7 linked regions of the Homo sapiens genome follow. The protein of the gene in region 7 interacts with the protein of the main gene of each other region in a pairwise test. Each region holds a gene or a part of one and is shown on either strand. Other genes may lie near its edges.

Region 1 (3,500 bases), on a different chromosome or scaffold from region 7:
AGTGCACACATGAAACATCTCTAGTGAATCCAAAGTGGTCTGAGGTCCCTCCGTGCCTTCCTCTCACTGTTCACAACATCTGCTGACTTGTTACCTACAGCCTCCCCTATTGCCAGCTCAAGCAAGAAAACTGAAACCTCCTAAAAAAGTCAGGGTCTGCAATACATTCATTCAGACTAGGTAATTTTACATTTAAAAAAAATCCTTGAGGCTGGGTGCAGTGGCTCATGCCTGTAATCCCAGCACTTTGAGAGCCGAGGCAGGTGGATCACTGGAGGTCAGGAGTTTGAGACCAGCCTAGCCAACATGGTGAAACCCCATCTCTACTAAAAGTACAAAAATTAGCCGGGTGTGGTGGCACGCACCTTTAATCCCAGCTACTTGGGAGGCTGAGGCAGGAGAATCGCTTGAACCCGGGAGGCAGAGGTTGCAGTGAGCCAAAATCACGCCACTGAACTCCAGCCTGGGCAACAGAGTAAGACTCTGTCTCAAAAAAAAAAAAAAAAAAATTCCATGAAAAACAAAAGTTTTTCAGTGCATTTTATTTTAACAAAGTTGATGCTGGGTTAATAATTGTGAAATCTATTTCAAGGATAATCATAAATACAAATGCTTACTCTATGTCAGATCTCATGCTATAAACTACAAATCTACACTATAATCCATTTATTCCTCTCAGCAAGCCTACCAAGTAGGTATTATTATCTTGTTTTACAGGTGAGAAAATTAAGGCTCAAAGAAGGGGGAAAAACTTTCCCTAGCTCACACAGCTAAATAAATGAAATGCCACATACAGATTTTCCTGACTTCAGTACATGCCTTAACCACTAAAATTTAAGTTTTGCTGTATTTTCAGATAGAAATAGGAGGACTTTTACAAACATCCTCCAAATAAAGTTCCATCAGTAATTTACCTAAAAATGTTAATTCAGGTTAAAATGTAAGTAATTTTTACCATACTATGAGAGAATTAACAAATGTAATTTGGCTAAATTTTATATTATAGAAAAGCTGCATGAAGAGCCCAGGTATTACAGGCACTGTGCATTACAGATTAAGATAACAGCATTAATGATTCCAGCCATCTTGACCATATATTAAAGAAAACATTCTTTAGATATCTAAAATCCCACATGGATATAAGCAACAACCAATTGTTCTAAGGACAAGAATAATTTATAGAAATGAAATGCCCATCCAGTGGACCCGGGGTTCAGTCTCACCTCATGCACTTCAGTGTCTTTGTATATGTAGCTAGCTATACCTACAGCATTATCTCAACTTACACCTTCCACTCATCCATCATGACCAAGGTTAACCTCCTCCTCTTACCCCTTTAAAGCCCCTAAACCTCCATCTCCTACCCCTTTAAAGCCCCTAAACCTCCATCTCTTTTCCCTAAGCAAAGTGAAATCATTTCCCTAGTCTGCTTACACTGGTACACCTTTTATTATTAGAGTGCCTATTAAATTTAAATCTTCACCATACATAGTGATTTCCCTTAGCAACTTCAATTGTTTGAGCAACTTCAGAAAGGTAGATTAAAAACAAAACAAAACAGGACTTGCGAATAAACCCAGCCCTTACTACTGTGTGATCTTGGGCATTTATTTGTCCAGCAATCTTCATATATCTCACACATAAAATGGGGTAACACCTAGCAAAATATCCGACAGATAAAGCCACCTTCCCCCTAACCAAAATGTGTGTAAACTGTCTTTGATGTTTTGTAATGAAAGACATTTCCTACAACTGATTTATAACATGCTTCCTGAACTGATTCAAAAACTAGTGACAAGGTTCCTCATTGGAAAATCAGACTGACTGTCACTCAATAGGTTATACAGCATGGGCAACAGACCTGTAATTTATTACTCAATGTTCTGAGCACTAAGGTACTAAACAGTGCCCAAAGAGAAAGGAAAGTCAACTTTTTATTACTTTGAAATGGAAACTGAGTTCAAGTCTCTAATAAAAAGATCCGAGTCTGCAGTTTGCAATAGTGGCCTACTGAACCTCACTGCATAAACTAAAGTTTGTTCATTCTCTCTCTCCTTAAACTGCTAATTTATGGCTATGGCAGGCAGAATAATGGTCTCTCAAAGATAACCACATCCTAATCCTGGAAACCTGTGAGTATTAGTTTACACAACAAAAGAGAATTAAGGCTGCTAATCAGCCGACCTTAAAATAGGGAGATTATCCTGGATTATCTAGGTGGGCCCAATGTCATCAATCACAGGGTTCTTACCAAGAGGCAAGGAAGGATATGTGATGAATGCCAGGAGGGTCGAAGTGATGTGATATAAGAACTAGACTTGCCTTTGCTGGCTTTGGAGATGAAAGAAGGGGCCAAGAGCAGCCTCTAGAAGCTGGAAAAGCCAAGAAAAGACATTCACCTCTAGAGCCTCCAAAAAGGAATGAAGCTCGGGCTACACTTTAATTTTAGCCCACTGAGACCTGTGTCACTTTTAACCTACAGAACTGTAAGGTTAAAAATATAATGTTTTATGCCACAAAGTTTTGTGGAAATTTGTTACAGCAGGAATAAAAAACTAAATGTTTTGGGGTGTTTTTCCTACATTAACTTCTTTAGAGTCCTTTGAGTCACAATGGAGATACACTGGGACATTACAAAATCAAGTTTAAGAATCTCTAATGGAATGGGGAAAACATTTCATTGTACAAAACTTAAAATTTGGAAGGAAAAGTACCACCACACAAGATGGCATACTTCTAGTATGGCTAAGTAGACACTGTCAGGGCAAACCACTGAATAATAACTATAAACTCTGGACAAAATATTTTATAAAAACAAAAGCTTTCTGAAGGCACTGGGGAACAACCAAACAGGCAGACACAGAAGGGGAGTCTACATTCATAAAAAACCAATGAGGTTTTTGTTTTTTCTTCACATCTTTTAGCCTGAAGGCAGGCCTCAGTGAGAGTTTGGAACAACAGACATGGTAAAGTGGGAAATCCTAGAAAAGGAAGAGCCAGAAAGGGGGAGGGAGCCCTATACATTCTGTATATAAATTCTACGGAAATCTCTGGCTGAACCCTGAACCATGCATGTACATGCTGCAGACTCCAAGGAGCCTAGCTAAAAGAACGGAACCAATATTTGATCTGCTGCCCACAAGGGATATGGATAGCAACAACAAAACACACTATTTGGAGGAATAAAACAGGATCTAGAGCCTCTACAACGTATCATTCACAAAATTCAGCATACAATCCAAAATTGTTCAACATATGGGAAACAAACAAAAAAGGAAAACACATTTTCAAGAAAAAAATCAACTAAGATTACCAGACACAAACTTCAGGACAGCTATAATCATGCCTAAAGACATAAAGGAAAATATCCTCGATGAATGAAAAAATACACAATACAGATGGGTCGCTGACTTACAATTGCCTGTCTTGCAAATTCCCAACTTTACAACTGTATGAAAATGATAAGTATTCAGCATGCTCCTCGATTAAGTCCAGATAAC
Region 2 (4,012 bases), on a different chromosome or scaffold from region 7:
CCTGGAGCTGGGAAACAAAGCCCTCTCAAATCTGAATATGTGTTTCACGAGGAGAGAGAGAGCAGCAGAGGGGACCACGAGGAAGGCAGAGATTCCCTGACCACCTCATGCCTTTGTACACCACTCGCCTTTACTCTCTGGATTAAACAGCATTAGGGAGACAAGAGAGGAAACACATGTGGTGTCTGGAGACCTGTGCCTGCCTGTTCCAGTCCCACACCCAGTCATCTCACCACACCCTTCACCTCACTTTACCTTCTCCTCCAGCACAGGAACTAGGAACTACGGAGAGAGAAGCCAAGGGAGAGGAGGAGGAGGAAACTAACGATTCCCTGCCCACCCCCACACCCAGCACCACCAACAGGTGGGCAAGCTTGCCGAGAAAACGCAGAGGGCATCCTGTGAGCAGCAAACACATCTGAGCCTGGAAAAGACGCAGAGAAGTAAAAGATCAAAGGTGAGGTAGGGGACGTGGAGGAAAGTGGGAGAGACAAAAGGAAAACAAAAAGTGGGGGATCATGAGAAGCAGAGGCAGGAAATAACAGGGCTTCAGACTTGGGTGCAGAATGGAGGTGGAGGACACAGCACAGATGGCATAAGAATTAATATTTCCTTGGTTCCTCCCAGGGAGTCCTTTCTCAACTTTGTAAGGCGTGCACAGAGGTGGCAAGGAAGCACCTTGCTCCTCTTCCTGGTTCTAAGGAAAAGGTGACCTTGAGCCAGTGGGTGTCTTTCCCAGTGCCTGCCTCTAACCCTGTGCTTTCTCCATATCCTCCTCTGGTATCTGTGTTTATTCCGCGGTTTCCCCGCGGCTGCCCCCGGGAGACCGAAGAGGTGGCTGGGGCAGGCCGAAAGCAGAGGAAAGGTTGGGCAGTGTCACCCTTGCACACCCACAGGGTAGACGGATCGAGTTTCAGCTTAAACCGAGGGGTGTGGGGGAAGGGTGTTGGGTTCAGCTAGTCCACGTGGGTGCTGTCCTCCACTTGGTGCTGAAATCTGGGCGGCCACATCCCCGGGGCGGGAGGGGGCTACATCCCCGGCTTTAGACGCGCGAGTCTCAGGTCCCGCTAATTACCTGGCGGGTGCTGCCCACCCCTGCCCTCGCGCACCTAGCGCGGTGGCAGGCGGGAAGGCGGGGCCTGGGGGAGCCCCACCCCTGGAGACTGCGGCTGGGGCCTCCCTCTCCTCCGCCCGCCCGCCTGCCACTAGCTCATTGCGCCTCTCCTGCAGTCTGATTGGCACCGGCTCCCATTCCGGCTCCAGCCTCCAATCCGACCCCCATTTCGGCTGCAGCCTCGGACCTAGCTCCGGCCCTCGGTCTATCCGGTTGCATCCTCCCTCCCTGTTCCGGATCTTATCTTGCGCCAGCGCCTACTCCAGGATCCCGTAGCCAGACCTCAAGCCATGGCTGGTCCCTTCTCCCGTCTGCTGTCCGCCCGCCCGGGACTCAGGCTCCTGGCTTTGGCCGGAGCGGGGTCTCTAGCCGCTGGGTTTCTGCTCCGACCGGAACCTGTACGAGCTGCCAGTGAACGACGGAGGCTGTATCCCCCGAGGTAACAGTGCCTGAGGCGCGGGAGGAGGCGGGGGCAGGAGGTGATGGGAACGAAGGTGCGGGTAGAAGTGAGAATCCGGGCAACAGAGAAGGGCTATAATCACGAAGGCCCTGGAGCTGGAGGGCTGTGCAGTCTGCAGACCTCAGTGGGGTGGGGGTGGGGGCCAAAACCATAAAGCAAGAACATTCCTGGGGACCTGCCAAGACCAGCTCTGGCCCTACGAGTTCTAGCTGCACTGGCTGCCCAAATCCCTAATTGTAAAGCCAGGAACTATCCTTTTCGCTCCCCTCCATCTCCTTCCCTCATTTCCTCAATTCCTCTCCTTAGGCTTTTCCCCTCCTCCATCCGTAGTGTTGTGTCATGGGAGGAAAGAACTGAGCAGATCTGAAGAAACTGAGCTGGCCAGCCAGAGGCAACTAGAACTATTAGGAAAGCATAGACTCTGAAAGTCCCTAAAGAGATTACCAAGGTTTACCCTCTTTCTAATTCCCCCTCCTCCCGCGGAGCAAAGCCAGACATGGCCAACTGGACAGCTCCCAGGTAACTGCACTAGGTCTAGGCGTCTGTGCCCTCCCTCCATGGTTACTGGGTACCCCCTCCCCAGCGCTGAGTACCCAGACCTCCGAAAGCACAACAACTGCATGGCCAGTCACCTGACCCCAGCAGTCTATGCACGGCTCTGCGACAAGACCACACCCACTGGTTGGACGCTAGATCAGTGTATCCAGACTGGCGTGGACAACCCTGGCCACCCCTTCATCAAGACTGTGGGCATGGTGGCTGGAGATGAGGAGACCTATGAGGTAGGGGGTCCCCAGAGTCTCCCTGATGATCCAATTCATCTTCCCAGTAATCCCAGCTCCTTTCCCCTAAAGACCTCTCACTTTCCCCCAAGACTCTGAGCCCCCCATACTTAAGTTTTCTGAACCAGTGAAATCAATGCACAATTGAAGTCTGGGGAGGGATTCCCTCTCCTTAACCATCTCTCCCTCTTAACTCCCCTTAGGTATTTGCTGACCTGTTTGACCCTGTGATCCAAGAGCGACACAATGGATATGACCCCCGGACAATGAAGCACACCACGGATCTAGATGCCAGTAAAGTGAGTTCAAATATCCCACTTCTGATTTGCATTGCCTGTGTACAACACTCTGTATCTCCAACCCCTTCACCTTATTTCCTGACTCATGGTCATTATACAGCTGAGCTTTTAATCTTAATGTAAGGAAAGAATCATATCTTAAGGGGCAGCATATATGGAGATGGAAGGATAGATAAGAATGACCATGACCCAAGGTGGGTGGTTTGGGGAAAGGTCTGCAATGCCCCCTTCAATTCCAGTGCTTTCCCAAAGGGCCTCTTCTTCCAATGCATGCAGGAAGAATGCACAAAGAGTCCTCTAATGCCTAAGGAAGGTCTCTCCTTTCCCAGGGGCCCTCAGTTCCCACCGTGTTTCTGTGACTTACATTCATTTCCCTTATCTCCCAGATCCGTTCTGGCTACTTTGATGAGAGGTATGTATTGTCCTCTAGAGTCAGAACTGGCCGAAGCATCCGAGGACTCAGTCTGCCTCCAGCTTGCACTCGAGCAGAGCGACGAGAGGTGGAACGTGTTGTGGTGGATGCACTGAGTGGCCTGAAGGGTGACCTGGCTGGACGTTACTATAGGCTCAGTGAGATGACAGAGGCTGAACAGCAGCAGCTTATTGATGTGAGGGCCTTAAGAGGGTGCTGGTTGGTGGGAGCAGATGGGGAAGGCTGGGCCAGATGAGACATGGGCTCTGAAAGGCCCAGGGGCCACCATGAAGATTCTTAACCCAAGTCCCGTTACTCTTCCCAGGACCACTTTCTGTTTGATAAGCCTGTGTCCCCGTTGCTGACTGCAGCAGGAATGGCTCGAGACTGGCCAGATGCTCGTGGAATTTGGTATGAAGCTGCTCATTACCTCTTTTGTCTTCATGCCCTCATAAATGCTTTTTTTCCCTCTATCTCTCCCAATTCTTGCCTTGCCTCTTGATCACTGTCCCTCTCCGGCCCTCAGGCACAACAATGAGAAGAGCTTCCTGATCTGGGTGAATGAGGAGGATCATACACGGGTGATCTCCATGGAGAAGGGTGGTAACATGAAGAGAGTGTTTGAAAGATTCTGCCGAGGCCTCAAAGAGGTTAGAGAAGATTGTGTAGGGGAGCTAGGTGGGAGGACATAAGGAAAACCAAAGAGTAGCATAAATAGATTATGTAATTTATCAACCAACCCAAGACATGTCTGATGGTAAAAAGGACTACCTAGGACTCACTCTAGGACTAAAGGTATAAACCAGCTGGGACCATACTGGGAAAACCAGGACATGTGGTCACACTAAGATTAGGAAAAGAGTGTCAGGAACCTTAGAAAGTGAAGAAGGCAGGTAATGCAAAGAAGGAATAACTGAGATGGCACGTCAGTGCCTGGGATGTGTG
Region 3 (3,500 bases), on a different chromosome or scaffold from region 7:
TTATTTCTTGTCTCTAAGGATAATTCTGATCCACGGCAATTTCCCCGCACATGCTGGAGAGACTTACTATTGTAAATGACCTTTGGGATGGAACTTTGTCAGAAGGAATTTTGAAAGTCTAAACAGAATTCATCCTGGGTTTCTCCCTCGTCTCCAGGCCTGTTTCTGACTCCTTAAAGAATGCTAATAGATTGGTTGGGTTTCATGTTCTTTTTAGAGAACACATTGTGCTTCGTTCAGCTAGTTAAGACTTTATAAAGTGTGCTTCATAATAATACTTTTTTAGTATATATTCTGCAAAAGTGGCTATTTAAAATGACCCTTCTGACCAGGTGCAGTGGCTCACACCTGTAATCCCGGCACTTTGGGAGGCCGAGGCGGGCCGATTACCTGAGGTCAGGAGTTTGAGACCAGCCTGGCCAATGTGGTGAAACCCCATTTTTACTAAAAATACAATAATTAGCCAGGCATGGCAGTGGGCACCTGTAACCCCAGCTACTTCGGAGGCTGAGGCAAGAGAATCACTTGAACCCAGTAGGCGGAGGTTGCAGTGAGCAGAGGTCCTGCCACTGCACTCCAGCATGGGCAACGGAGAGACTCTGTCTCAAAAAAAAAAGGACGCTTCTCAGGTAGGGTGGACTCCCCTTGTGGGCGGGAGGTACAGGGTGCATGCCTGTGGACACAGGTGCCACATGAAAGGACAGTTGTACATTTTGGCTACGAGGATGTTGCTGCCATCTTCATTATCTGAGGCTTCCTTTCTCTCTGTGTAAAGAATATCACCTGAGCTTTGATGCTCCTTCCCTCACCACCAGAGACTCTTATTCTTGGTAATTAAGACATAATTACCAAGAAGAAAAAACTACCAAAAATTTAAAAATTTTACCAAAATTAAAAGTTTTCATTTAAAAATTAAACTAAAATTTTTAATTAAAAAATTACCAAATATTGCCAAGTATTGGATTTTATTCCAAAATTTTAATGGGTTTTTAATTTTATTTTTTTGAGACAAAGTCTTGCTCTGTCGCCCAGGCTGGAGTAGCATGGCACAATCATGGCTCACTGCTGCCTCAACCTCCTGGGTTCAAGCGATCCTTCCTCCTCAGCCTCCCGAGTAGCTGGGACCACAGGTGCACACGCCACCACGCCTGGGTCATTCTTTGGTATTTTTTGTGGAGATGGGGTTTTTGGCACATTCACCCAAACTTACACTGCAGAAGGTAAGTAACCTGCTTGAGGTCACCCAGCAGGCTTGGTGACAGAGTGAGGTTTGGGCAGCTCTGGGTGACTCCCAGCTGCCAGGCCACCTCTGATGAGATCACAGCTGCTCCCCAGGCACGGGGCTTTTCGTTTTCTCTCTGCCTCTACTAACCCTACTCCATCCTCTTGCTCTGAACAGAAGCAACGACTCCCTCTGTGCTCCCTTTGACCTCTGCTGCCCCAGGCTCAGTTCAGGCTGGGCTGGGCTGGGGCCTTCCTGCTGGTTGGCCAGCAGTTTCCATGGCCACCCTTCCGTGGTATTTGGATGTATGACCCTCTTTCCTTCTTTCACACCTGTCCTTCTCGACTTCCCATATTCTCAGTAACCTCTTGGAGCAGCCGTGTTTCTTTTCTCCCTACTTCTCCCATTTCTTTTTACTGGGACTATAAACTGGGGTATAACTACACTTTCTTAATGAAAGTCTCCCCCCGACCACCGCTTTCTTCTTAAAACTCTTGTCTGAGACTTCCTATCACACCTACTATCTGGTCTCCAAGTTTGCAAATTCTTCTGCCTGCAAAACCCAGTACAAAAGCAATAGTATTTATGAATTGCTTAATTGTCAGTGTTGAGATGGAAAGCTTCAAGACACTGCCACTGAATATGGGGAAAGACAGAGACCTGGGATTTGGGGTGGTCCTAACTCCAGCTGTGTGGCACCACGCCCTGTCCTATCTTCAGCCCCTCAGCTTCTCAATCTGCAGAATCACAGCCTGGCTGCCCCAGGAGATCTCCAACCTCCAGAGTCCTGTTTCCAGGGATCCGGTGAATAGATACTGGCTCTGTAACTAACCAGCCTTGCCCACACCTGATTGTGGGGAGCCATTCTGAGGCCTCATCTGTAACACTTCTGCAGTCCCCAAGTTAAAATGTGGCCAAGCACGTAGGAAATGTCATTTGAAGAGTGACATTTCTTATGTTTTGATGTCACCATGAAATTCAGTAATAATGCCCAACAATACTATAGTATACCTGAAACCATACCTTAGAAACATTCAGCAACCGCCTGAAGTTTGAAAGCAGCTTTTGGGTATGCATACACAAGACACACCAGGTTCCCGTAAAAGAGAACAGACCACACAGCGCTTATGTCTCCCCATTCCGGTAAGTTCTTGGGAGAAGAACTGTCTTGGAACCATTTATCCACCAAATGGCAACTGTCTGAACCGACAGTGAGTCTGTCTCTCTCTCAACCAACAGAAGGCTGGAGTATTTGGATTAATGAATAATTTAGTGCCAAGCACAAATACCATAGACATTTAGCAATAAGAACAGATAACCAAGTTGTTCATCAAATTCAAAACTGTTTAGAATGGCTAAGCAAAGCTGAAATAGAGACAATCCCCAGCTGATGGGAGGTGGGGAAAAGTGCCAATCCAGAAAGAAGAACAAATGTGTCACCTTATGTGACATTCACTTCCACCATTGTTTTTCTTTCTTAAATTTGTCAAGGCTAAGGGAATTTCTTCACTTTTATATTACAGAGGCAATATAGCATGCTGGGCTAAGAACATGCAGTCCGAACACAGACTCTCTAGAGCTCAGTTATTTCATCCGTAAGATAGGGATATATTTGCAGATCTATCAAAAGATTGTTGTGAGGATTAAATGAGTCAATACAATCATAACCACTTAGAACAGATGCCTGGCATAGAGTAAGTCTTGATAAGTAGTTGCCAATATTCATTTTATATCATGGACAGGAACTATTGTTTGGACTACAATAGTGCCTACTATGTGCCAGATTCAGCTACAGCCTTTGTATGTACAGGATCTTGGGAGAGCTCTGCAGAGTTCTGCAAGGACTCACGGATAACCTTGACTTCTAGGTGGGTTTTAAGTTCATTTTCAGTTATACTTGAGGCCTGATGGGCACCTACTAGAAAAAACTCCCCCATGTAACCAGCGTCGTCATCTTAACTATGCCACGGGCACAGCCATTTCCATTTCACAAACGAGACAGACTCATTTCTAAGTCTTGTCTAAGGACCATAAATACAAGCAGCCGTGCAGAGGCTCAAACCCAGGTCTTGAGATGCCAAGTGCAGTGTTTTTCCCACCAAACTACAGCTGCTTCTCATCTTCACCCATGGTTTATTTATTTCTGTCAGTCCAATAATATGCCCCACATGTAGAATGACGGCTCATGCATTAGAAAGGGGAATATGTTTAGAGATATACTGTTTTCCAGACATTAACAAAAAATATAAAAACTTTTTAAGAAGAGAAAAATTTCCGT
Region 4 (3,500 bases), on a different chromosome or scaffold from region 7:
GCACGGTGGCTCACTGTCATCCCACACTTTGGGAAGCCAAGGCAGGCAGATCACGAGGTCAGGAGTTTGAGACCGGCCCGGCCAGCGTGATGAAACGCCATCTCTACTAAAAATACAAAAACTAGCTGGGCGTGGTGGCGCCCGCCTGTAGTCCCAGCTACTTGGGTGGCTGAGGCAGGAGAATTGCTTGAACCTGGGAGGCGGAGGTTGCGGCGAGCCGAGATCGTACCATTGCAGTCCAACCTGGGCGACAGAGCGAGACTCGGTCTGCGGCGTGGGGGAACCTGTGAGCAGCAGGTCATGTGGTTTGCCACCACAGATAGGGCACAAGGTTCCGTGTGAGGCCCCTCAGTCAGGACGGCATCTGGGAGGGAGCCCCACGGAGGCTTCACGGCAACGCCAGCATGGAGGGAGCCGGCACTCACCTAGGGGGCTGTAGGATGAGGCTGCAGAGCCCAGTGTGCCCGGCTCTGAACGCAGGGGTGGCGGCTGCTGGGGAGGCGTCATGGCTGAGGAGCCCACCGGCCCTGGGAGGGGCTGGGACAGCGAACCGAGCGGCGAGGTGGACGCAGAGGATGGCGAGTGTAGCGATGGTGCTCTGGGCAGGGAGCCGGGGATGGCGACAGGTGCAGAGCCGGCCAGCGACCTGGGACCTGGCGGGGGCGGACCAGTCAGCGAAGGGAGTACCGCCAGGCCTCTGCCCAAACATCTGCCATGGGCGGCAGCCGTGGAAGACGGACCCTGCAGGTGGTGGTGGTGGGGATATGGGGGGTGGGAATATAGGGGCCAGGCCAGCCACCACCATCTATGTGTTTGGAGCCACAGCGCCCCCGGTGGCCATGTCCAACACAGCTGGGCAAGCCATGGGCTCAAAGGGATTCCAACCAGAGGTGGGGAGACGGGGGTTTAACATGGGCCCCCCCCAAAGAGGCCGGACACCCACCAGGCCCTGCCGGCCAACTAAGCCATTGGCACGGTCCTCCCAGCACTTGTCCAGGCCCCCTGAAATGGTTTACTTTCTTTTAAAAGAAAGAAAAGATACACTTTTAGGCTGAATGAAAAGATGTTGTATACGATGTTAAGATACATTTGTATGGGGCCGGGCGCACTGGCTCACGCCTGTAATCCCAGCACTTTGGGAGGCCAAGGCGGGCAGATCACGGGGTCAGGAGATGGAGACCATCCTGGCTAACATGGTGAAACCCCGTCTCTATTAAAAATACAAAAAATTAGCTGGGCGTGGTGGCGGGCACCTGTAGTCCCAGCTACTCCGGAGGCTGAGGCAGGAGAATGGCGTGAACCCGGGAGGTGGAGCTTGCAGTGAGCGGAGATCGCGCCACTGCACTCCAGCCTGGGCGACAGAGCGAGGCTCTGTCTCAAAAAAAAAAAAAAAAAAAAAGATACATTTGTATGGATGTCAATCTTTTGTCTACAATGTGAATACATTTATCCTTCGGGGACCATCAAGACTTTCAGGAAAGGCCCCGCCTGTCTCTGCGCGGCCACTTTGCTGGGACAAAGGTCAACTGAAGAAGTGGGCAGGCCCGAGGCAGGAGAGATGCTGAGGAGTCCATGTGCAGGGGAGGGAAAGGGAGAGGCAGTCAGGGAGAGGAGGAGGAGGTACCGCCAGAAGGGGATCCTCCCGCTCCGAAAACCAGACACCGGGTCTTGCCCTGTGGTCCAGGCAGGAGTGCAGTGGTGCAACCTCAGCTCACTGCAGCCTTGACCTCCCCGGGCTCAAGCGATCCTCCGGCCACAGCACTTGGCTGTTCAGCGGCTGGAGGAGCAGGGCCCCAGGTCCTCCCCACCCTCACCTGCTGCTCCCAGGTCGTGGCCGTCTTGCTCTTCCAGGTCCTTCTCTAGGGATGCAATATTCACATTGCTAAGATGCAGGTCTAACGCAGAACCTGTCAACAGAGCCCCCCATCATCCACAGCCCACCCAGCGCTGCAGAGCTCAGGAAGCCTAGCTGAGGAGGACGACCGTCCCACCTGGGCTTAGAGTGAGACCAAGGGCAGAAGGCGTGGGAGTTGCTGGGGCAGCCAGGGAAGGACACCCCCAGCCCGTCCTCGCAGCCCCCCACAGGCAGTGTGAGGCTTGGCTGTTCCTCCGGCAAAACGAGCGTGCTCAGGTGGGACGCCCCGCACCACAGACCAGCAGCTGGGTCCTCGCCTCTGACACGCTGCTGCTGCCCCTCAGAGTTTAAATACCTAAGTGTGTGTTAGCATCTGTCCACGTGTGCACATTCGACTGTTTAAAAAACTTTCCAGGGCCGGGTGCGGTGGCTCACACCTGTAATCCCAGCACTTTGGGAGGCCGAGGTGGGCAGATCACAAGGTCAGGAGATCGAGACCATCCTGGCTAACACGGTGAAACCCCGTCTCAACCAAAAAAAAAAAAATACAAAAAATTAGCCAGGCGTGGTGGCGGGTGCCTGTAGTCCCAGCTACTCGGGAGGCTGAGGCGGAAGAATGGTGTGAACCCCAGAGGCGGAGCTTGCAGTGAGCCGAGATCGTGCCACTGCCCTCCAGCCTGGACGACAGAGCAAGATTCCATCTCAAAAAAAACAAAAACAAAAACAAAAAAAAAACTTTCTGTGAGGGTGATTTCAAGGAGCAGGTGTTCACGTGCAATTTCATGCCAAGCACCAAGACCTCAATTCCCAAGGCTCAAGACTGAGTGGGAAGGACCCGCCTCAGAGTGGCCTCACCCAGCCAGCCCTGCCTTCCAAGGCTGTCCCCACACATCCCTGCAGGCCGTGGGGCTGCCCTCCTGCACGGGCCCTTCCCTCCCAAGTCCCCACCCCCAACCCCGAATGGCAAGCAGGGACCCCACTGCCCCTTCCTAGAATTAGGAAGCCATCATGAGGAGGCTGAGCTCAGGCCACCAGCCCCTGAAGCCACAGCGTGTCTCAAACTCCCGCAGCCACTGCACAGAAGTTGGGTTGGGGGTGAGGGGTGACCAGAGGATCTGGGATCTGAGAGCCCACGTGCCACCTGGGGCAGACCAGAGGACCGCAGCGGCTGCAGGAGCTCTGGGATACACCCTGTGGGCCGGCGCCGCCTCCCCAGCCCAGCCCAGTGTTGTGGCCAACACCGCACAGAGACCTCAGCAGCGTGGGGCACACCGCACAGGGACTGCCGGCCTACACTGCACAGAGACCTCAGCAGCGTGGAGCACACCACACAGGGACTGCCGGCCAACACCGCACAGAGACCTCAGCAGCGTGGGGCACACCACACAGGGACTGCCGGCCAACACCGCACAGAGACCTCAGCAGCGTGGGGCACACCACACAGGGACTGCCGGCCAACACCGCAGAGACCTCAGCAGCGTGGAGCACACCACACAGGGACTGCCGGCCTACACCGCACAGAGACCTCAGCAGCATGGAACACACCACACAGGGACTGCCGGCCAACACCGCACAGAGACCTCAGCAGCATGGAACACACCGCACAGGGACTGCCGGCCAACACCGCACAGAGACCTCAGCAGCA
Region 5 (3,500 bases), on a different chromosome or scaffold from region 7:
AGTTTGGAAAGTGGGGCCATGATGTGTCTCACCTACAGGTGATCAATGTCTGAAGACACAGAACACCATAAAGGTCTGTGCGAGTGAAAGGTGTTAGCTCAGAGTACAAGTATTTTCTCTGCATGTTTCCCCAGGAAGACGGGGCAGGGACCTCATCTGATTCCTGTGTGTTTCCCCAGGGGCCAAGAAGGCATGTGGTGCTCAGCCGTCCCTTGCTGAATGGCATCATGAAACCTGGTCACAGGGCTTCCTCATTTCAGGGTCCCAGTGGCCAGCTCAGGGGCGGCCCAGCACCTGGTGTGCCCATCACCCCTTGGAGAAAACCACAGAATGTTTTCCAAATGCCACGCTGTCACCACTAGGCTGGCTCCAAGAGCAGGCGGCTCCCACACTTGTCCCAGCGTCTGCACAGACAAAAACCCAGTCCTCATTTCCTCTTGGGTTAGGTAAGGAGGCTGGCATTTAAAACACACACAAAAGGCCACTACATTCCCGGAGGAGACGAACAAAGGAAATGTACACACACTGACTCAGTCCGGCACGCCGTGCCCACTCGAGGTCCTGTTGTAACTGAATCCAGGCGGACTCGACCGGACCTGCCAAGCCCAGGGGCGGACTCCCTCTCCTTTGCTCTCTTCTGTGTGCCATGTGGTGCCCAGTGATCCTGCCATCTGGGCACCCACGCTGGTGGCCCGCCAAGGCCACATCAGCTGCAGAATCTTTCCTCTTTCAATGCTGGGTTTCCTACTTTCTAAGATGGGGTGTAATCTGGGGTCCTGCTCATTTGCCAAAAAGTCATGTCTGTGCTCAGAGGTGGCTTGGTTAGCCTTTCCTCAAAGCAACCCCAAAAGATATGCCCTCTAAACAAAGTGTGTGCTTGGTAGAAAATGCAGCTTTAAGACACAGCACTGACCCATTCCAACCCAAAGCCCTCCTATGCAGACATGTGGGAGCTGCCTCGGCAGGGAAGGGGCATAGGAAGGAGAGCCTGTAACTCTGGGAGGTAGAGCCCTTCTGGGCTTAGGTTCCTCCTCATTGGAATAATTCGAGGATGAGCATTTCTCTAAGAAACCTCTTCTCCCAGGGAAGGGCCAGCTCAGCTCAATACAGCCCTGCACAGCCCACTGAGGGGAGTGAGGAACGTTTGCTAACAGATTCGTTCACTCCATATAAACATTCTCCAAGGATCCGGCCGCGTGCCTACTTAAAACTTCCCATTCACTCAACAAATATTAATTGAGCTCCTCCTATGTGTCAGGCACAATGCTGGCCATGGAGAACACTGTTGTGGTCCACAGACCAAGTCCCATCCCCTTCTAGAGTGCATGTTCAGTCTGTGAGGCAGGTTACAACTATGCGATGACAAGACGGATGCTCAGGGGCCCTGGCATGGTACCTGGGTGCACACTGTTCCTTCCAGCTGCCTGGGGGCCCTCACACAGGTCCTGAGCTGGGCAGCTGGTCACTTCCTGAGGGCACATCCTGGTCACTTCCGGAGGGCAGCCTCTGTCCTCCAATTTTCAGCTCAGACCCCCATGCTGTGGGTGTCCTCACAGCACTCAGGCTGATGCTCGTCAAGCACCACAGATCCTGGACTCTCTGGGTCTCTGTTTCCTCATCTATAAAATGGGCAGAACGATACCCACATCACGGCATCACTGGGAGGATGAAGTGAGTTCCCTCAGGTTAAGGGTTAGATTAGAACATGGCCCACAGTAAGTGCCTGGTAAGGCCATCTACCGACAGGAGCAAAGGCCAAAGAAGCAGGAGGAAGTTCCACAGCCCCACCTCTCACCCACCGGCCCCACCTGCCTCTCCACCTTGGGGTCTACCTGCCCTTCACCCCAGCCCTCTCAGCCCTCTGGCAAACCCCACGTCTCCCTCCAGGTGGGTTCAAACACCCCTCACTGCCGGAAGCTCTCCTACTTCCCCAGAGACTACATCCCAAAAAATGCCACCTGCAAATTGATCAAGAGCACCTAAGAAGGGGTTGTGACAGCCTCTGTCCCCACCAGGTGGTGAGAGGCCAATGGGTGGGGCCATTAGAGGGTCTTCGTGTGGGCTCCCAGCACAATGCCTGACCCAGGACTTCCATCCGGACATACGTCATGAAAGAATGAGATAACGTGCCACACACCAGCCAGCACAAGCATCTCTGGTTAGCAGAAGGGAGTCCACTTAGCCCATAGGACAATGGACGGTCTGTGTTTTTGCATCAAAACTTTTCACCCGCAGTCCAGGCCCAGGTGTCACAACCAGAGCCTTGACCTGAAAGCTGGGACAGTGATCTGATTTAGGCTACAGAGCAGCAGGCTGCATGTGGGACCTGAGGCTGGTCATGATGTCTCTCTGGGCCTCAGTGTCGCCATCTGTAAAAGGAGAGGTATTTTTTTTTTTAAAGCAAGACAAACTTGTCTTTTTTTTTTTGAGACGGAGTCTCACTCTATTGCCCAAGCTGGAGTGCAGTGGCGCCATCTCGGCTCACTGCAACCTCCGCCTCCTGGGTTCAAGTGATTCTCCTGCCTCAGCCTCCTGAGTAGCTGGGATTACAGGCACACGCCACCACGCCCAGCTAATTTTTGTATTTTTAGTAGAGATGGGGTTTCACCATATTGGTCAGGCTGGTCTCAAACTCCTGAGCTCGTGATCCGCCTGCCTCGGCCTCCCAAAGTGCTGGGATTACAGGCGTGAGCCACCGTGCCTGGCCAAAACTTTTATGTTTAACATTTTTCTCAGATATATTTAACCACTTTAAAGCAAACCGCTGGATGGGATGTATTACAATCACAATGTTGTGCAACCACCACCTTCATCCGGTTCCAAAACGTCTGCGTCACCCCAATAAAAACCCATGTCCCTTAATCAGTCGCTCCCCAGTCTCCCCTCCCCAAAGGCCCTGGAAACCACCAATCTGCTTTAGGTCTATGTGGATTTATCTATTCTGGCTACTTCATGTATCTTAAAATGACTCCTATGCAAAACCTCCTTATGTAAAACAGGCAACAGGCAGGTGGCTTTGCCCCCTTCGCCTCCCCGGAGCTCACGTTCCTCATCCTTAGTGGCCTTTCAGGGAAAGCTCTGATGCCAGGTGCCATTCTTTGCAGAACTCTTTTTTTTTTTTTTTTTTTTTTTTTGATACAGAGTCTCGCTCTGTTGCCTAGGCTGGAGTGCAGTGGCACAATCTCAGCTCACTGCAGCCTCTGTCTCCCAGGTTCAAGTGATTCTCACGCCTCAGGCTCCTCAGGCTCCCGAGTAGCTGGGATTAAAGGTGTCCACCACCACGCCCAGCTAATTTTTCGTATTTTTAGTAGCGATGGGGTTTTGCCATGTTGGCTGGGCTGGTCTCAAACTCCTGACCTCAAGTGATCTGCCCGCCTCGGCCTCTCAAAGTGCTGGGATTATAGGCATGAGCCTGTCCTGGTCTTTGTGATTTTTACACTACCTTTTTTGTCACATGGTACCTCTTAGCAGAATTCTAATCCTAAAGTTGAATTTCTAAG
Region 6 (3,500 bases), on a different chromosome or scaffold from region 7:
GACACATGAATAAACAGAAAGACTAGTGGAAGAGAAGAGAAATCTAGAAATAGACTTAAGTCCATAAGGAAAATCAGTATATGATGAAGGTGTTATCTGAAGTCACTGGAGCATAGATGGGCTCTCTAATTAAATGGTGCTGGACAACTGGGTGGCCATTTGGAAAAAAGGTAAGATTAGATCCATTCCTCATGCCATCCACACAAATAAACTCCAAATTTAAAGAAGAATGACAATTGAAGAAAGTGTAAGAGAATTCCTCTATAAACTCAGTATAGAGAGAGCACCGCAAACATAAAGGACTGATCAATTGTACTACGTAAAAAATTAAAAATATTTGCATAGTAAAAACTGATAATTCATTTAAAAAATATGTATGTCTAAGAGGCTTACTATGTCTTTTACCCAAAAAGTATCAGGTTAGATCTACCACAAAAGTGATGTCATCCTATCTAAACAAGCCACTTCTAAAGTTTCATTTAAAAGAACCACCACAAGGGAGAGAAATTGACCTTGGAGAGGGGAGGGAGAGCCTAGTCTCGTGTTAGTACTGGTTCCAGCTTTACCTTCTTCAGTTTCTTGCGGGCCCCACTGTGGTTCCCCTGCGCCAGGTCTGCTCCTCCCAGGAGCCGGTATGTCTCTGCCACCTCGGGACTGAAATCGCCAAATGCTTCCACTTTGGCTTCCAGGGACTCTCTCAGGATCGAGGTTGCTCTCTGTGAAAGGAACAAAAAGCTATCTGGTTAACAAGCTCAAAGGCTGATTAGGATCATTACGCAACTTGTAACATTTTCACATGGGTGTGGTAGTCTCACGAGCTGAGCCTGTTCTCCTCTTGTATTAGTCCATTCTCATGCTGCTATGAAGAGATACCTGAGACTGGGTAATTTATAAAGCCAAGAAGTTTAATTGACTCACAGTTCCACATGGGTGGGGAGGCCTCAGAAAACTTACAATCATGGCAGAGGGCACCTCTTTCATAGGGCAGCAGGAGAGATAAGTGCTGAGCAAAGGGGGCAAAGCCCCTTATAAAACCATCAGATCTTGTGAGAATTCAGTCACTATCGCAAGAACGGCATGGGGGTAACCGCACCCATGGTTCAATCACCTCCCACAGGGTCCCTACCATGACACATGGGTATTATAGGAACTATAATTCAAGACGAGATTTGGGTGGGGACACAGCCAAATCATATCACCTCTGGTTGAACAAGAGTCAGGAAACAACACGAATGTGAGGAAAGGTGTAAACTATGAAGAGAGAGGACACCTGGCAAAATAAACCCACTCAGCCATTACAGGAATCCATTTCAGTTGAGTAGTAAGAACAAAAGCTGACATGGATCAGTCCTCACATGTCACTAATTGTGCTGAACACACACAATTGTGTGGGTCTCATTTAATTTTTGCTGTCTTCTTTAGATGGGTAAAATTTTAATCCTCATTAGGCAGAGGAGGAAACAGGCACGGCAGTTAAGAAACTTGCTCAGAGTCAGAGGGCTCAGCTGTGGTGGTGCTAGGATCTGAATCCAGCCAGTGATCTTCATACCTTTTTTTTTTTTTTTTTTTAAATCCGTCTCACCGTCTCAGCAGATCTTCCATTTTACAACAGCAGGTGGAAATCTGGAGGTTTTTTTTTTTTTTTTTTTAGACAGAGTCTCTCTTTGTCTACCAGCCTGGAGTGCAGTGGCATGATCTCAGCTCTCTGCAACCTCTGCCTCCCAGGTTCAAGCGATTCTCCTGCCTCATCCTCCCAAGTAGCTGGGATTGCAGGCGCCCACCACCATACCCAGCTAATTTTTGTATTTTTAGTAGAGACAGGGTTTCACCATGTTGGCCAGACTGGTCTTGAACTCCTGACCTCAAGTGATCCACCCACCTTGGCATCCCAAAGTGCTGGGATTACAGGCGCGAGCCACAATGCCCAGTCTAATTTTCATACATTTTAGTCCCATGCTTTTCTCCCTCTGTCCACAATGCTATTCTTACAGAAGTGAAAATATAGCATTCCTGGGCAAATTATCTATGTATAGAACATCCTGAACACACTCCAGGCTTGGCTATTCTCATAGGAAATCGTTTAGGAAACTGAAAGTAAACATTCCAACATGACATGACATTTTGTTTGGTTTATCCAATTTATTTATACTAACATGGAATAAAAATTATGAATTGGTCAGGACATAGTATTTCCTGATATTAGCTTCTTCAGACACCAAAATATGCAGGGGGAAACCCTGTTAAAGTATGTCAATCCTCCATACTTTCTCCAGAAATTCTTCCACGATCTTCCACATGAAGGCACGACATCAGCTGCAGAGCATGGATGCTGAATTTAACTGGCAAATACAGCAGGGACCATGGGAGCTTCCTCATGACACAGCCCCAAAGGGGTCCCAAAAGTGCTCCACAAACAGAAGGACAAGGAGGGCGTTTAATCCTTTTGTTGGCAATAATACAAGTTAGGGGATAGGGCCGGGGTAGGGGAACCACATTACAGGTGCTGATGAGGCAGAAATAAATTTCTCAGGTGAAAGAGGAATCTCTGTAGAGGCAGAGTGATTGTGTAACTCAGCAGTGAGGCCCCACTGAGGTACATGAGGGACTAGAATTTAAATCTAGACTTGCCTGAGGGTAAAGCCCATCACATCTCCCAAGTTCTGAGAGCAAGGACTTGGACTGCTGAGAGTGCTGGGTTTGGTGATATTTCTGTGGGAAAATATCACTGTCAGACTTAGAGGAGCCAGTGATGGGGAGAAGACCCGGGGAGACTCCCTTTCCCAGATAAAGCTTTGGATGCCGCCTACAGCCTGACTGCGGAAACGGGGAGATGTGAAGGAAGTTAAATGGCACGGGTTTCTAGGAAACTGAGATAGTATCAACCTCTGCTAGGAAAAGCTTAAGAGAGAGGAGTGAAGAGTAAAGAGGACTTAGGTGGGATGAGAAGAGGGTATGGGCCACTGGGAGCACAGGAGGAACACATGGCCTGTTGAGGGCCAGTGAGTGGCCAGGCTGAGGAAGTCACAGAAGATTCTTGAGCAAAAGAGTGGCACAACTAGAAGACAAACCCTCACGGAGTAGCTTAACCTGTGGCAGAGTGACCTTCACTTACATTTTACCTTAAAAGGCATTTCATCCCTCAAATATCATGTTCCACAGTGCCCATGGCCATGTGCTGTGGGAACACCTGGGATGGCCTGAGCACAGCCCCATTCTTGGCTCCGGGACTGTCCCTGGGCCCGGCCCTTGTTGGCCAACACCTGCTAGAACCCACAGTGAGAGGTTTGCAACCAAATGGTGAGAACAGCATGAGACTGCCATGTTTGGCTGGGCAGGTGGTGCCACACACAAGGGTGCCTGGCAGGAGCATGGGGAGGGCTGAAATCCAGCCTATGGTCCTCTCCAACATGGGCGGTATCTACCTGAGGAAGGGGCAGCTTTTTCTATTATGATAAGGGCATTGGATGGGCTGGCAGTGGCCCTAGAATGAAAAGAGCCAG
Region 7 (3,500 bases):
CAGCACCAGGGCACGCACCGTGGGGAGGCAGCCTTGGGCTGTGCCCGCGACAGGGCCCCTGCATGCTGAGCAACAGCCTCACATGAGCAGGCAGCACGGCCTCCTCTCCACGGGAGCCTCCACCGCCGGGGCTGTGAGCTTGAGCAGGGGTGGGTCCCCGCCTGCCCTGAAGCCACAGTCAGGCTGGGGGGTCACCGTGTCACCAGGCAGGCCAGGCTCAGCTGTCTCAGGGCTCTCGGGCCCCTCAGGTGGGGGTCGCTGCAGCTTGGCAGCAGCTCGCTGGCGCTTCAGGTCAGCCAGGGTGTGGTGGGCCTTGTCGTGGACCAGGGTGTGGGGGGTGGTGCTGTCCAGGGGGCTCAGCTGGTAGGAGACACTCCGGTCTAGTCGCTTGGAGTATAGATGCCGCACTGGGGAGCCCCCTACTCGGCCATTGTGCGGCCTGACCACTTCGGGGTTGTCCTCCTGCGGGCAGTGAAGGTCCCAGAGCCATCAGGAGGCTCCTCCCCCCTCCCTGGCCTTGGGTTCAGGCTGTATGGTCATGAAGGGACAGACAGGAGAGATGGGGCAAAAGCTGGCCCCTGCAGGGCACCATTCCTGACACAGGCAGGAGGGGGTCCAAGCGGAGAGAGAACCAGGGCAGAGCCAGGCCCACCCCTGCGCTGGGCGGAGCAGGGACGGGGCGCTCACCTCCGGGGGCGGCGGCCTGAGCTCTGCGCCTGTCTGGCGGTCATCGTTGTCCTCGGGCGGCTCCGGGCTGGTGGGCGGCGGCTGTTGCCACACGATGGCCTCCTGGGCGTGCTGCTTGCGGTACAGGTCGGTGCGCTGGGTTAGGCTCACCCGCCTCACCACCTTCCTGGGGAGGAGAGAGGAGAGGGAGTGAGGGGAAGGGGAGTGCCCGGAGGACCCCGCCCACCCCCTCGGACTCTGCCCCCAGTTCGGCTGGCACTCCGCCCGGGGCTGACGTCCGCGGGGCCAAGCCCGGGGCGGGGCCTGCTGGGGGCGGCGCTCACCCGCGGCTGCCGGCGCTGGAGGTGCGGCGGCGCAGCAAGGAGCGCTGGCGGCTCTGGGCGCGCAGGAGGGCGTCGTGCTTGTGCTTCAGCTCCAGCAGCTTGGCCCGCACCTCCTCGTCCCCGCACACATCTGAGAAGTGGGCGCAGGCGTCAGGGGCGCCCTCCCCGCCTGTCCTCTCCCCCAGGTGGAGGTGGGCCCCGCAAGCTCACCAAGGGGCGTCTCGTCCATCAGGGACTTTGCGTTCAGGTCGGCCCCGTGCGCCACGAGCAGCTCCACCAGGGGCACCTGTGGACGGCAGGCCGGAGCTGCAGACTGCTGCGCTGGAAGCCCCCTCCCACCTGCTCCCGCCCGCACTCACCTGGCCCCAGTAGGCCGCGGCGTGCAGCGGCTCCCAGCCGTCTTGGTCCTTAGCGCTCAGGCTGGCTCGGTGTTCCAGCAGCAGGGCAGCCGCCTCGCTGAACCCGTTGGCGGCTGCGACGTGCAGCTGCAGGCAAGCGCCCGGCCTGAATTCGGCCCCATCCCCCACCTCCAAGTAGCGAGGCCCCCAGCCCCGTGTGCCCCTCACCCCCCAGCCCTCACCAGCGTGGCCCCGTGGTCCAGGGGGGCATGGAGGTCTGCCCCGGCCTGCAGCCGGCTCCGGATGTCGTCCAGCATGCGCAGTTCTGGCACGGCCCGGGCGGCCTCGATGCTGTCCTGGGTGATGCCTGCGAGGCGGCAGGCTCAGAGGGAGCGCGACCGGCAGCCCTCCCACAGCCGCACCGCCGCACCTACCACGGTCGGCCATGGCAGTCTCCAGGCAGTCCAGCGTCTGCTCATCATCACACAGGTCATAGGGCATGTTCCCGTCGGTGTTGACCGCCAGGAGATTGGCGCCACTGCAGGGAAGACGGACGGGGTGCTGGGCACAAGGCCCTTCCCCGCTTGCCAGGCTCCTCACTTGGAGAAGTCCCCGCCAGGGCCCCTCAGCCCAGGGCTGCCCCTCAGGAGGCACCCTGTCCACCTGCTGCTGGGAGAGGCAGCCTTGGGGCCCATCGGCTGTCCTAGATCCTGTCATTAAGCCAGACAGGCCTCCTGCAGTCTCTATCCATCCAGGGATCCAGGTTCCTGGCACCTCCAGGGGCAGCGGTGCCCCCATAAACATGCATTGGATGGGCCTGCCTGCTGGGGAGCAGGGAGCACAGGGTGGCGGGGGTGCAGGACCAGGCAGCCACGCTGAGGGGCTGCTGAGCTGTGGGGAGCATGGCCCCAGGGAAGAAGGGCGGTGAAGGGGAGCCCAGAACACAGAAGGGGGTGTCTGTGTGCAGTGGAGGAGCAGGCCTACCTGTGGACACCCCACATCCCCGCCTGCCCCGCAGCGCCTGTGTGTGACGCGACCGCCATGCACACCCCACCCGGCCTCACAGGGGCACTCGAGAATGACCGCAGCCCTGACCTCTCTCCCACTACAGATGCCTGGAGCAAAGGGGAAGGGAGGAGGCTCATGGACCCTCCCTGCTCAGAGTTCCCCCCGCTCTACGTCCCTCTGTGTTAAAGGTAAAGGCCCTACCTGTGCTCAGGTACCCTCTCCTCCCAAGCCACCTGGCCTCCTCACTCTGCTTCCCTCCTTAGCAGTTCTGCCCTCCTCACTGACCAAGACATTTCTCTGTGCACACTCTGGGGGGGGGCCCGAGGCCTGCCCTCTCGGCAGGAGGACGAATGCTGGGGAGGCAGGGACCGCGCTGCCCTGGGCACATGCCCATTCCCCTGGAGCCCCAGGCCCTGCTCTCCATGCCAGGACACAGGCAGGGTCAGCAAAGGTGAAGGCGGGAACACAGGAGGCCGAGAGCCACAGATACTGCCCAAGAGGAGCCTCCTGAGCGGCCATCTGAGAGGAAGCCTCTCCCTGCCAAGGACGCCCAACAGGCCCTACCTGGCGATGAGCAGCTCCACCAGGTGCAGGTGGCCGCAGGTGGCCGCAGCATGCAGAGGCGTCCAGCACTCACTGTCACAGGCATTGATGTTGGCCCCAGCCTCCAGGAGCTGCTGCACCATCTCTCGGAAATCATCAATGCAGCACTGCAAACCGTGCCACGTGAGCGACCAGAGCACGGGGGCCAGCCCCCACCCTGCCCACACCCAGTGCAGGCTGACCTGGTGCAGGGCCGTCAGGCCGTCCTCGTTGGCCAAGTCAGGGCTGACCCCACTCCCAAGGAACTGGCGGACTGCAAAAAGGTGGCGAGGTGAGGACAGGGTCCTGCCCCTGGTCAGGTCCTGTCAACTGTGCTTCGGCCCAGGACCCAGGGAAGGACAAGGAAGACAGTGGTGCCGATGGCAGGAGGCACACCAGAGCCCAGGGGTGGGGGCAGAAGCACCAGGCATCTGTCTGGCCCAGGCCGGTCACACTCCCAGAAGCCCTCTGCCTCCACCCACCTGCAGGCCCTTCATGGTGGTGCTCCAGCCCTCCGACCCCCAGAACAGGCCGTGCTCCTGTGTGAGAGCAGCACTCCAAC

The links.
Region 1: the proteins of PPP1R16A (region 7) and NDUFV2 interact in binary tests that used the Homo sapiens proteins (3 or more experiments, as listed by UniProt).
Region 2: the proteins of PPP1R16A (region 7) and CKMT1A interact in binary tests that used the Homo sapiens proteins (3 or more experiments, as listed by UniProt).
Region 3: the proteins of PPP1R16A (region 7) and RGMA interact in a two-hybrid assay, tested with the Homo sapiens proteins (one large-scale study listed by BioGRID and IntAct).
Region 4: the proteins of PPP1R16A (region 7) and UNKL interact in binary tests that used the Homo sapiens proteins (3 or more experiments, as listed by UniProt).
Region 5: the proteins of PPP1R16A (region 7) and NEK6 interact in binary tests that used the Homo sapiens proteins (3 or more experiments, as listed by UniProt).
Region 6: the proteins of PPP1R16A (region 7) and TTC23 interact in binary tests that used the Homo sapiens proteins (3 or more experiments, as listed by UniProt).

Annotation. Positions count from the first base shown.
Region 1 is NC_000018.10:9,105,699-9,109,198, reverse strand, and holds part of NDUFV2 (NADH dehydrogenase [ubiquinone] flavoprotein 2, mitochondrial precursor), read right to left. Parts: intron 1-3,500.
Region 2 is NC_000015.10:43,692,647-43,696,658, forward strand, and holds the start of CKMT1A (creatine kinase U-type, mitochondrial isoform 1 precursor), read left to right. Parts: upstream 1-1,212; 5' UTR 1,213-1,404; coding exon 1,405-1,553; intron 1,554-1,880; exon of another isoform or gene 1,881-2,064; coding exon of another isoform or gene 2,065-2,157; coding exon 2,158-2,356; intron 2,357-2,559; coding exon 2,560-2,655; intron 2,656-3,041; coding exon 3,042-3,263; exon of another isoform or gene 3,264-3,264; intron 3,265-3,392; coding exon 3,393-3,478; exon of another isoform or gene 3,479-3,482; intron 3,483-3,593; coding exon 3,594-3,717; intron 3,718-4,012. UniProt on the Homo sapiens protein: Reversibly catalyzes the transfer of phosphate between ATP and various phosphogens (e.g. creatine phosphate).
Region 3 is NC_000015.10:93,079,212-93,082,711, forward strand, and holds part of RGMA (repulsive guidance molecule A isoform 3 precursor), read right to left. Parts: intron 1-3,500.
Region 4 is NC_000016.10:1,369,705-1,373,204, forward strand, and holds part of UNKL (putative E3 ubiquitin-protein ligase UNKL), read right to left. Parts: intron 1,908-3,500; coding exon 1,815-1,907; intron 654-1,814; coding exon 426-653; exon of another isoform or gene 303-425; coding exon of another isoform or gene 230-302; intron 1-229. UniProt on the Homo sapiens protein: May participate in a protein complex showing an E3 ligase activity regulated by RAC1. Ubiquitination is directed towards itself and possibly other substrates, such as SMARCD2/BAF60b. Intrinsic E3 ligase activity has not been proven.
Region 5 is NC_000009.12:124,264,449-124,267,948, reverse strand, and holds part of NEK6 (serine/threonine-protein kinase Nek6), read right to left. Parts: intron 1-3,500. UniProt on the Homo sapiens protein: Protein kinase which plays an important role in mitotic cell cycle progression. Required for chromosome segregation at metaphase-anaphase transition, robust mitotic spindle formation and cytokinesis.
Region 6 is NC_000015.10:99,155,582-99,159,081, forward strand, and holds part of TTC23 (tetratricopeptide repeat protein 23), read right to left. Parts: intron 717-3,500; coding exon 567-716; intron 1-566. UniProt on the Homo sapiens protein: Participates positively in the ciliary Hedgehog (Hh) signaling.
Region 7 is NC_000008.11:144,498,482-144,501,981, reverse strand, and holds part of PPP1R16A (protein phosphatase 1 regulatory subunit 16A), read right to left. Parts: exon of another isoform or gene 3,213-3,500; coding exon 3,142-3,212; exon of another isoform or gene 3,067-3,141; coding exon 2,921-3,066; exon of another isoform or gene 2,460-2,920; intron 1,887-2,459; coding exon 1,783-1,886; intron 1,716-1,782; coding exon 1,591-1,715; intron 1,496-1,590; coding exon 1,370-1,495; intron 1,297-1,369; coding exon 1,221-1,296; intron 1,141-1,220; coding exon 1,011-1,140; intron 854-1,010; coding exon 688-853; intron 463-687; coding exon 79-462; 3' UTR 1-78. UniProt on the Homo sapiens protein: Inhibits protein phosphatase 1 activity toward phosphorylase, myosin light chain and myosin substrates.